Linked DNA regions of Homo sapiens. The protein of the gene in region 1 purifies or fractionates together with the protein of each later gene. This does not show direct contact. Each region holds a gene or a part of one and is shown on either strand. Other genes may lie near its edges. The genes, in order: POM121C and NISCH.

Region 1 (3,819 bases):
TAGTTGAGAATTTTTTATGATTCTACTTTATGTCTTTTGTTGGGTTTTTAGCTATCACACTGTTTTGTTATTTTAGTGAGTTAGAATTTATAGTATGCAACTTTAATTGTCATAGTTTATTCTTAAGTAATATCCATTTTTCCTAGAATAAGAGAAGCTTACAATAGGACACTTCCATTTCTCTCCTCTTGGTCTTTACACCGTTGTTCATTTTATTTTTACAGGTGGTATCAGTGCCACACACTATCTATTACGTTGTTGTTAATTAAACTGTATTTATTTATTTATTTATTTATTTATTTATTTATTTAGAGACAGAGTCTCACTCTGTCCCCCAGGCTGGAGTGCAGGGGTGCTATCTTGGCCCACTGCAACCTCTGCCTCCTGGGTTCAAGTGATTCTCCTGCCTCAGCCTCCTGGGTAGCTGGGATTACAGACACCCACCATCACGCCCGGCTAATTTTTGTATTTTTAGTAGAGACGAGGTTTCGCCATGTTGGCCAGGCTGGTCTCGAACTCCTGACCTCAGGTCACCCATCTGCCTCAGCCGCCCAAAGTGCTGGGATTACAGGTGTGAGCCACCACACTTGGCCCAGGTATCTTTTAAAGAGATTTAAGTAATGAGAGAAAATACACAGTTACCATTTCTGGTACTCTTCATTCCTTTGTGTAAATCTAAATTTTTATTTGCTGTCATTTTACTTCTGCCTGAAGGACTTTCTGTAACATTTCTTCTAGTTGATGATGAATTATTATATGTCTGCAAATGTCTTCATTGTGTCTTTGCTTTTAAAGGTGTTTTTGCTGGATTTTTCTCCACAGTGCTTTAAATATGTTTCTCTGTTGTCTTCCTGCTTACATTTTTTTCTAAGAGAAATCTGATCTCATACTCATGTTTGTTCCCCTATATATAACATGTCTTTTTTTCTTCCCCCCTTATTGTTTTAAACTTTTTATCACTAGTTTTGGACAATTTGATTGCAATATGTCATGGTATCATTTTTTTCATGTTTCTGTTTTGGGGATCATTGAACTTCTTGGATCTTGGGTTTATGGTGTCATCACTTGGGGAACATTTTTATCATTATCTCTTCAAGTACCCGCCACCTCCCCTCCATTGATTCTTGTTGCCTGTATATTAGGCCACTTGAAATTTTCCCACAACACACTGTTGCTCTTTATTTGCTTTTAATTCTTCTTTCTCTGTTTCATTTTATGTAACTTCTGTTGCTGTCTTTATATTCACTAATCTCTTTTTTCCATGATGCTGTTCATCTTTTCCAGTATAATTTTCATCTCAGATATTGTACTATCTGTAGAAGGTTAGCGTGGGTCTTTTTTACATCTTGCCTGTCTTGATTTTTTTGAACATTTGGAATAGAACGATGAACTCTCTCAGTGCTCTGTGCCGGTTGTGAACTCTGTGTCAATTCTGGGCCAGTTTTGATGGACTGATTCTTTTCTTCCTTATGGGTTGTAATTTCCTGCCCATTTTCCCATCCCACAACTCTTTCTCCTCACATCTGCCTCGGTTCTTCTTCCCTGCTCCATGGCCTGGAAACGCTCAAGGCAGAAGTTGATTGGTTCACCTTGTTTATTTCCCATCACTCATAGATAACTCTACTGCCTGATAATCAGTGCCTTGAAAACCACTGCTTCAGCCCAGGCGTGGTGGCTCATACCTGTAATCACAGCAACAACAACAAGGCTAAGGTGGGCGGATCACGAGGTCAGGAGTTCAAGACCAGCCTGGCCAACATGGTGAAACCCCATCTCTACTAAAAATATAAAAATTAGCCGGGCATGCTGGTGCACGCCTGTAATCCCAGCTACTCGGGAGGCTGAGGCAGAAGAATTGCTGGAACCCGGGAGACAGAGGTTGCAGTGAGCCAAGATTGTGCCATTGCACCCCAGCCTGGAAGACAAGAGCGAGACTTCATCTCAAAAAACAAAAAACAAAAACAAAAACAAAAAAACAAATCATTGCTTTCGTATATGTTCTTGTTTTATTTTTCTTTCTGTTTTTGATTTTGTTGTTCTTTGGTGTGTGCTGTTTCAGGTTGGAGGGTATATCCAGTACTTGTTAATTTATCACACCTGAGGGCAGAAGTCCTCATGTCTCTGTCTATATGTTTTTTCTAATATATATATTATTTTCTTTGTAGAGACAGGGTCTTGCTATGTTGCCAAGGCTGGTCTCAAGCTCCTGGCCTCAAGCAATCCTTCTGCCTCAGCTTTCCAGAGTGCTGGGATTACAGGCATGAGCCACCACACCTGGCCTGGGTCCAGTTTTATCCATGTCCAAATTTTTTTTTCCCTGAGCTATTTTTGATTTTCTTCCACCTCATATGAACTGTAGTGTCAGCTTATCTAGTTCCAGGAAAAAGCTTTTTGGTATTTTTATTGGGATTGCATATTTATAAAGTAATTTAGGGAAACTGGTATCTCTGTATTATTAAGTTGACCTTAATACTACAACTAATTTTGTTGTTGTTTTTGGATTTTTAGTAGAGATAGGGTTTCACCATGTTGACCAGGCTGGTCTTGAACTCCTGACCTCAGGTGATCTGCCCGCCTCGGCCTTCTAAAGTGTTGGGATTACAGGCGTGAGCCACCGTGCCCAAGCACTTTTACTTTTTCTTAGTTATATTCCTCTAATTGTTTTCTCTTCTCTAATTGTAGATAATGAGCATTTTATTAATACCTTGTTCTTGATCTTAGTGGGAAGATATGTAGTTTTTCCCTGTTAAGTAAAATCCTGACTTTCGGACCGAGAAGACTGAGGCATAAGAGTGTGTGTGTGTGTGTGTGTGTGTATACACGCAAACTGTATATATGTGCTTGTGTGTAATTGAAATACATATGTCACATATCATACGTACTATGGCATATTAGGGTGTAATATTTATATTTGTGTATATAATATTGATGTTAATGAAGTATCCATCAGTTTCTATTTTCTTTAGTTTGTTTTTTTAAATCAGCTTTTTCTGTCAAGCTTTTTCAAGTATCTTCATGGATACAAGATTTTTCTTCTTTGCTGTGTTATAGTGGCTTATCATATTAATAGATTTCCAAATATTAAACTAGTCTATATTGTTGGAATAAGTCCTATTTGTCTGTTGTATATTATGTTTTTAATCTGGTACTGGATTTTGTTTGGTTATGTTTCATTTTGGGTATTTGTATTGATGTAAGTGGTATTGACATGTAATTTTATGTTATTTATTGGTCGATCAGTCTTCTAACCCCCACCACCTCCTTGCCTTCTGGACTAAGTTAACCCAGAAAGTTATTACTCTCTCTCGGTGATTTTATCAGCTCCTTTGGCCTGCCTGTGGATAAGCTTGGATGTTCTGCTTTAGTTTCTCAGCCCACCAGCCTAGCAGCTCTGCCTCTGCTATCTCTTGGGATCTACATGGTCCTAGCTGTATCACTGGGTTTGAACCCCTTGTTGATATGTTCTTTATAAATAACAGGATAATGCAACATGCTTACTGGGCACTTCCTTTTTCTAAACTGCAAGTTTGGGCAGGGCATGCTGGCTCAAGCCTGTAATCCCAATACTTTGGGAGGCCAAGGCAGGTGGATTGCTGGAGCCCAGGAGCTTTGCATTTTTCTTTTTTTTTTTTTTTTGAGACAAGGTCTCGCTCTGTTGCCTAGGCTGGAGTGCAGTGTTGCATTCACAGCTCACTGTAGCCTTGACCTCCCAGGCTCAAGCCATCCTCCTGCCTTAGCCTCCCAAGTAGCTGGAACTACAGGCATGTGCCATGATGCCCAGCCAATTTTTTAAAAAAATTTTATTTTTAGCAGAGATAA
Region 2 (3,819 bases), on another chromosome or scaffold:
CCTGCCCTCAAGCTTCTTGCCTTGGTCTTACATAGGCACAGAGCCTCTTAGTCTGTGGTTGATGTGCTTATGTTTTTTTACAGCTCGTTGCAGAGAGAAAGATTGATAAAAATCTGCTTCCGCCCAAAAAGATAATTGGGAAAAACTCAAGAAGCTTGGTGGAGAAGAGGGAGAAGGATCTGGAGGTCTACCTCCAGAAGCTCCTGGCTGCCTTCCCTGGCGTGACCCCCAGAGTACTGGCCCACTTCTTGCATTTTCACTTCTATGTAAGTTCCTCATCGGGTTTTCACCTGTGCCTGCAAACCCACAACTGCCAAACTTGAGGCAGCAAACCAGGGGAGACCTCAGCTTTGAGGTGGGCTGGGGTTTGACCCTAGGTTAGAAGATGGAGGAACGTCACCCTGGTTAGGAATGCATTGTGGCCAGAAGCATGTTAGTTGACAGATTTGCCGTAAATTAGACTAAATGTGGCCACAGAGATGCTTTCCTCCACCACAAGGCATTTTGTTTAGCAAAAATGGCCTGTGGGTGTTTAAGCTAGGTTTCCATCCAGATGGATGAGGCTGGATTAGAAATAGCTGACACCTGGGATAGACTATTGTTGAGTTGTTGGTGCATAGCCCAAAACTAATTAAGGGATTAGTCTGTGATGGTGGAATATCACCATCTTGGGGCGTGTCATCAGGGTCCGCGCTGCCAGGGTGCTAAGGTTGAGGGTGGACACCTTCCTGTGATGGGAGAGTGTGTCATAGAACAGCTCTGTACTCCGTCCTTGAAAGAGGAACAACTTTCATAGGTTGCCGGTGACAGAATGCGTTGTCAGACTTTAAGAAGGGCACTTAGGCAGTGTGAAACCACAATATTTGTGCTTTTGAGACGGAGTCTTGCTCTGTCACCTAGGCTGGAGTGCAGTGGTGCGATCTCGGCTCACTACAACCTCCGCCTCTTGGGTTCAAGCAATTCTCCTGCCTCAGCCTCCCGAGTAGCTGGGACTACAGACTTGCACCACCACACCCAGCTAATTTTTGTATTTTTAGTAGAGATGGGGTTTCACCATGTTGGCCAGACTGGTCTGGAACTCCTGACCTCAAGTGATCTGCCTGCCTCAGCCTCCCAAAGTGCTGGGATTACAGGCGTGTGCCACCGCACCTGGCCAAAACCACAATATTAAATAGCAGTTCTATTTATGAGAATTTCTTCTAAGGAAAAATCAGGCAGCCGCAAAAAGGATATATGAACAAAGGTAGTCATTCCAGGATTGTAACAAAATAGTAAGGACAACCCTAAAGTCTAGTAGAAGAGGTTAAAAAAAAAAAATCAGGCCAGGTGCAGTGGCTCATGCCTGTAATCCCAGCACTTTGAGAGGCTGAGGTGGGCAGATCACTTGAGGTCAGGAGTTCAAGACCATCCTGGCTAACATGGTGAAACCCTGTCTCTACTAAGAATACAAAAATTAGCTGGGTATGGTGGCAGATGCCTGTAATCCCAGCTATTTGGGAGGCTGAGGCAGGAGAATCGCTTGAACCCAAGAAGCAGAGGTTGCAGTAAGTCGAGATCATGTCACTGCACTCCAGCCTGGGCAACAGAGTGAGAGTAAGACTTCATCTCAAAAAAAAAAAAAAAAAAAAAAAAAATCAAAGGGTACAGCCAGGCTGAGCACAGTGGCTCATGCCTGTGATCCCAGCTCTTTGGGAAAATAAAACAAAAAAGAAATCTGCAGCTCCACCATCATTATCCCAGCAGCACACCAGTCTTCCCAGCAGACACTGTCTCAAAAAAAATGCAACTTTCTTAAGCAGTATCCAACTGTATGGCTGTACTATTTTTTTTTTTTTTTTTTTGAGACAGGGTCTCACTCCATTGCTCAGGCTGGAGGACAGTGGCCTGATCATGGGTCACTGCAACCTCAAACTCCTGGGCTCAAGGGATCTTCCTGCCTCAACTTCCCAAGTAGCTGGAACTACAGGTGCATGCCACCACACCCAGCTAATTTTAAAAATTTTTTTGTAGAGATGGGGTCTTGCAGTATTGCTCAGGTTGGCCTCAAACTCGAACTCAAGCCATCCTCCCACCTCTGCCTCTCAAAGTGCTTAGACTGTAGGTGTGAGCCACTGCACCTGGCTGACTATGGTCTCATTTTTACAAAAAACAAGTTGATATGGACATATTTGTCTAGGAAAATTCTAGAAGGTTTACGTATACCAAAATGCTAAGAGTAGTTTTCTCTGAGTGATAGATTTTCAGATAATTTATATTTACTTGTTTTCCTTTTATATGATGAAGACAGGGAAGAATCCACTCCCTTTTCAGGCTCACCTTGAAGTAACCTGTGGATTATGGTCCTAAAAGCCCAGCTGTATTTAAAATACAACTTTCTTGGCCAGGTGCAGTGGCTCACGCCTGTAATCCCAGCACTTTGGGAAGGCCCAGACAGGCAGATCACTTGAGGCCAGGAGTTCGAGACCAGCCTGGCCAACATAGCGAAACCCTGTCGCTACTAAAAATACAAAAATTAGCTGCGCGTGGTGACTCATGCCTGTAGTCCCAGCTACTCAGGAGAGAGGCATGAGAGTCGCTTGAACCTGGGAAGGGGAGGTTGCAGTGAGCCGAGGTTATGCCACTGCACTTCAGCATGGGCCACAGAGACTCTGTCTCAAAGAAAAAAACAAAAACAGAAGAAACAACTTCCTTAAACTCTTTTCAGAGTAAGACAGTTGAACCTTTCTTGGATCACTAAAGAGCCTAGAAATTTGGTGGCGAGTGCTAACCTGGGGCCACTGAGCTTGGCAGGGACAGGTGGAAAAGTAGATAGCATTCACAGATGGGACCTGTGTATATGCTTTGGATTTTATTTAGCATATACCAGCAAGTATAGGGTTAGCAACATACCCTTTCGTAAACATATTTTTATACTTTCTTATGTGAGAAAAAATTTGCATTCCTTATGCAAGTCTTTCAGATAAACTTTACTGGTTAGTATTTTAAGAAATAATGTACTTTAAAGGCCGGGCGCAGTGGCTCACGCCTGTAATCCCAGCACTTTGGGAGGCCGAGGCGGGTGGATCACGAGGTCAGGAGATCGAGACCATCCTGGCTAACACGGTGAAACCCCGTCTCTACTAAAAATACAAAAAATTAGCCAGGCATGGTGGTGGGCTCCTGTAGTCCTAGCTACTCGGGAGGCTGAGGCAGGAGAATGGCGTGAACCCGGGAGGCAGAGCTTGCAGTGAGCCAAGATCGTGTCACTGCACTCTAGCCTGGGCGACAGAGCAAGACTCCGTCACAAAAAAAAAAAAAAAAGAAATATTGTATTTTAAGAAAGCTTTGGTTAGCCATTTAGGGATGAAACCTGACATGCAGTCCTTTGACGGTATTAATTCCTTGCTTGAGACCTATGCCTTTGAGGAGAGGAGGTCTCGCTGGCTGCCTCACGTGTGCCTGGCTCTGAGGGTGGAAAGGCCTGGACTGCTCTTTTGAAACTGGTTTGCCTGAGATGTGCCTGGGGCCGGCTACATCTGGTTCTGGTTTGAGGCAGGCTCCGCTACTTGTAGAAGTTTTGACATATTTGGAATTAGTATTATCAAACAGGTCCCTAGGTTATATAAATCCTAGGATTTAAAAAAGCAATTGAACCCATCGTTGGATTAAACCCACAGTTGATCAGCCATAGCACTGTTGACATTTTGGACTGGATAATTTGTTTCTGTAAGGAGCTGTCCCATGCATTGTTTAGCAGCACCCTGGCTTCTACCCACTGGATGCCAGTAGCACTTCCCCACCCAGCTATGGCAACTAAAGATGTCTCCAGACATTGCCAAA

What was found.
Region 2: the proteins of POM121C (region 1) and NISCH purify together in Homo sapiens (affinity purification with mass spectrometry, with the first as the bait; one large-scale study listed by BioGRID). This does not show direct contact.

The regions. Positions count from the first base shown.
Region 1 is NC_000007.14:75,476,108-75,479,926, reverse strand, and holds part of POM121C (nuclear envelope pore membrane protein POM 121C), read left to right. Parts: intron 1-3,819. UniProt on the Homo sapiens protein: Essential component of the nuclear pore complex (NPC). The repeat-containing domain may be involved in anchoring components of the pore complex to the pore membrane. When overexpressed in cells induces the formation of cytoplasmic annulate lamellae (AL).
Region 2 is NC_000003.12:52,458,579-52,462,397, forward strand, and holds part of NISCH (nischarin), read left to right. Parts: intron 1-83; coding exon 84-266; intron 267-3,819. UniProt on the Homo sapiens protein: Acts either as the functional imidazoline-1 receptor (I1R) candidate or as a membrane-associated mediator of the I1R signaling.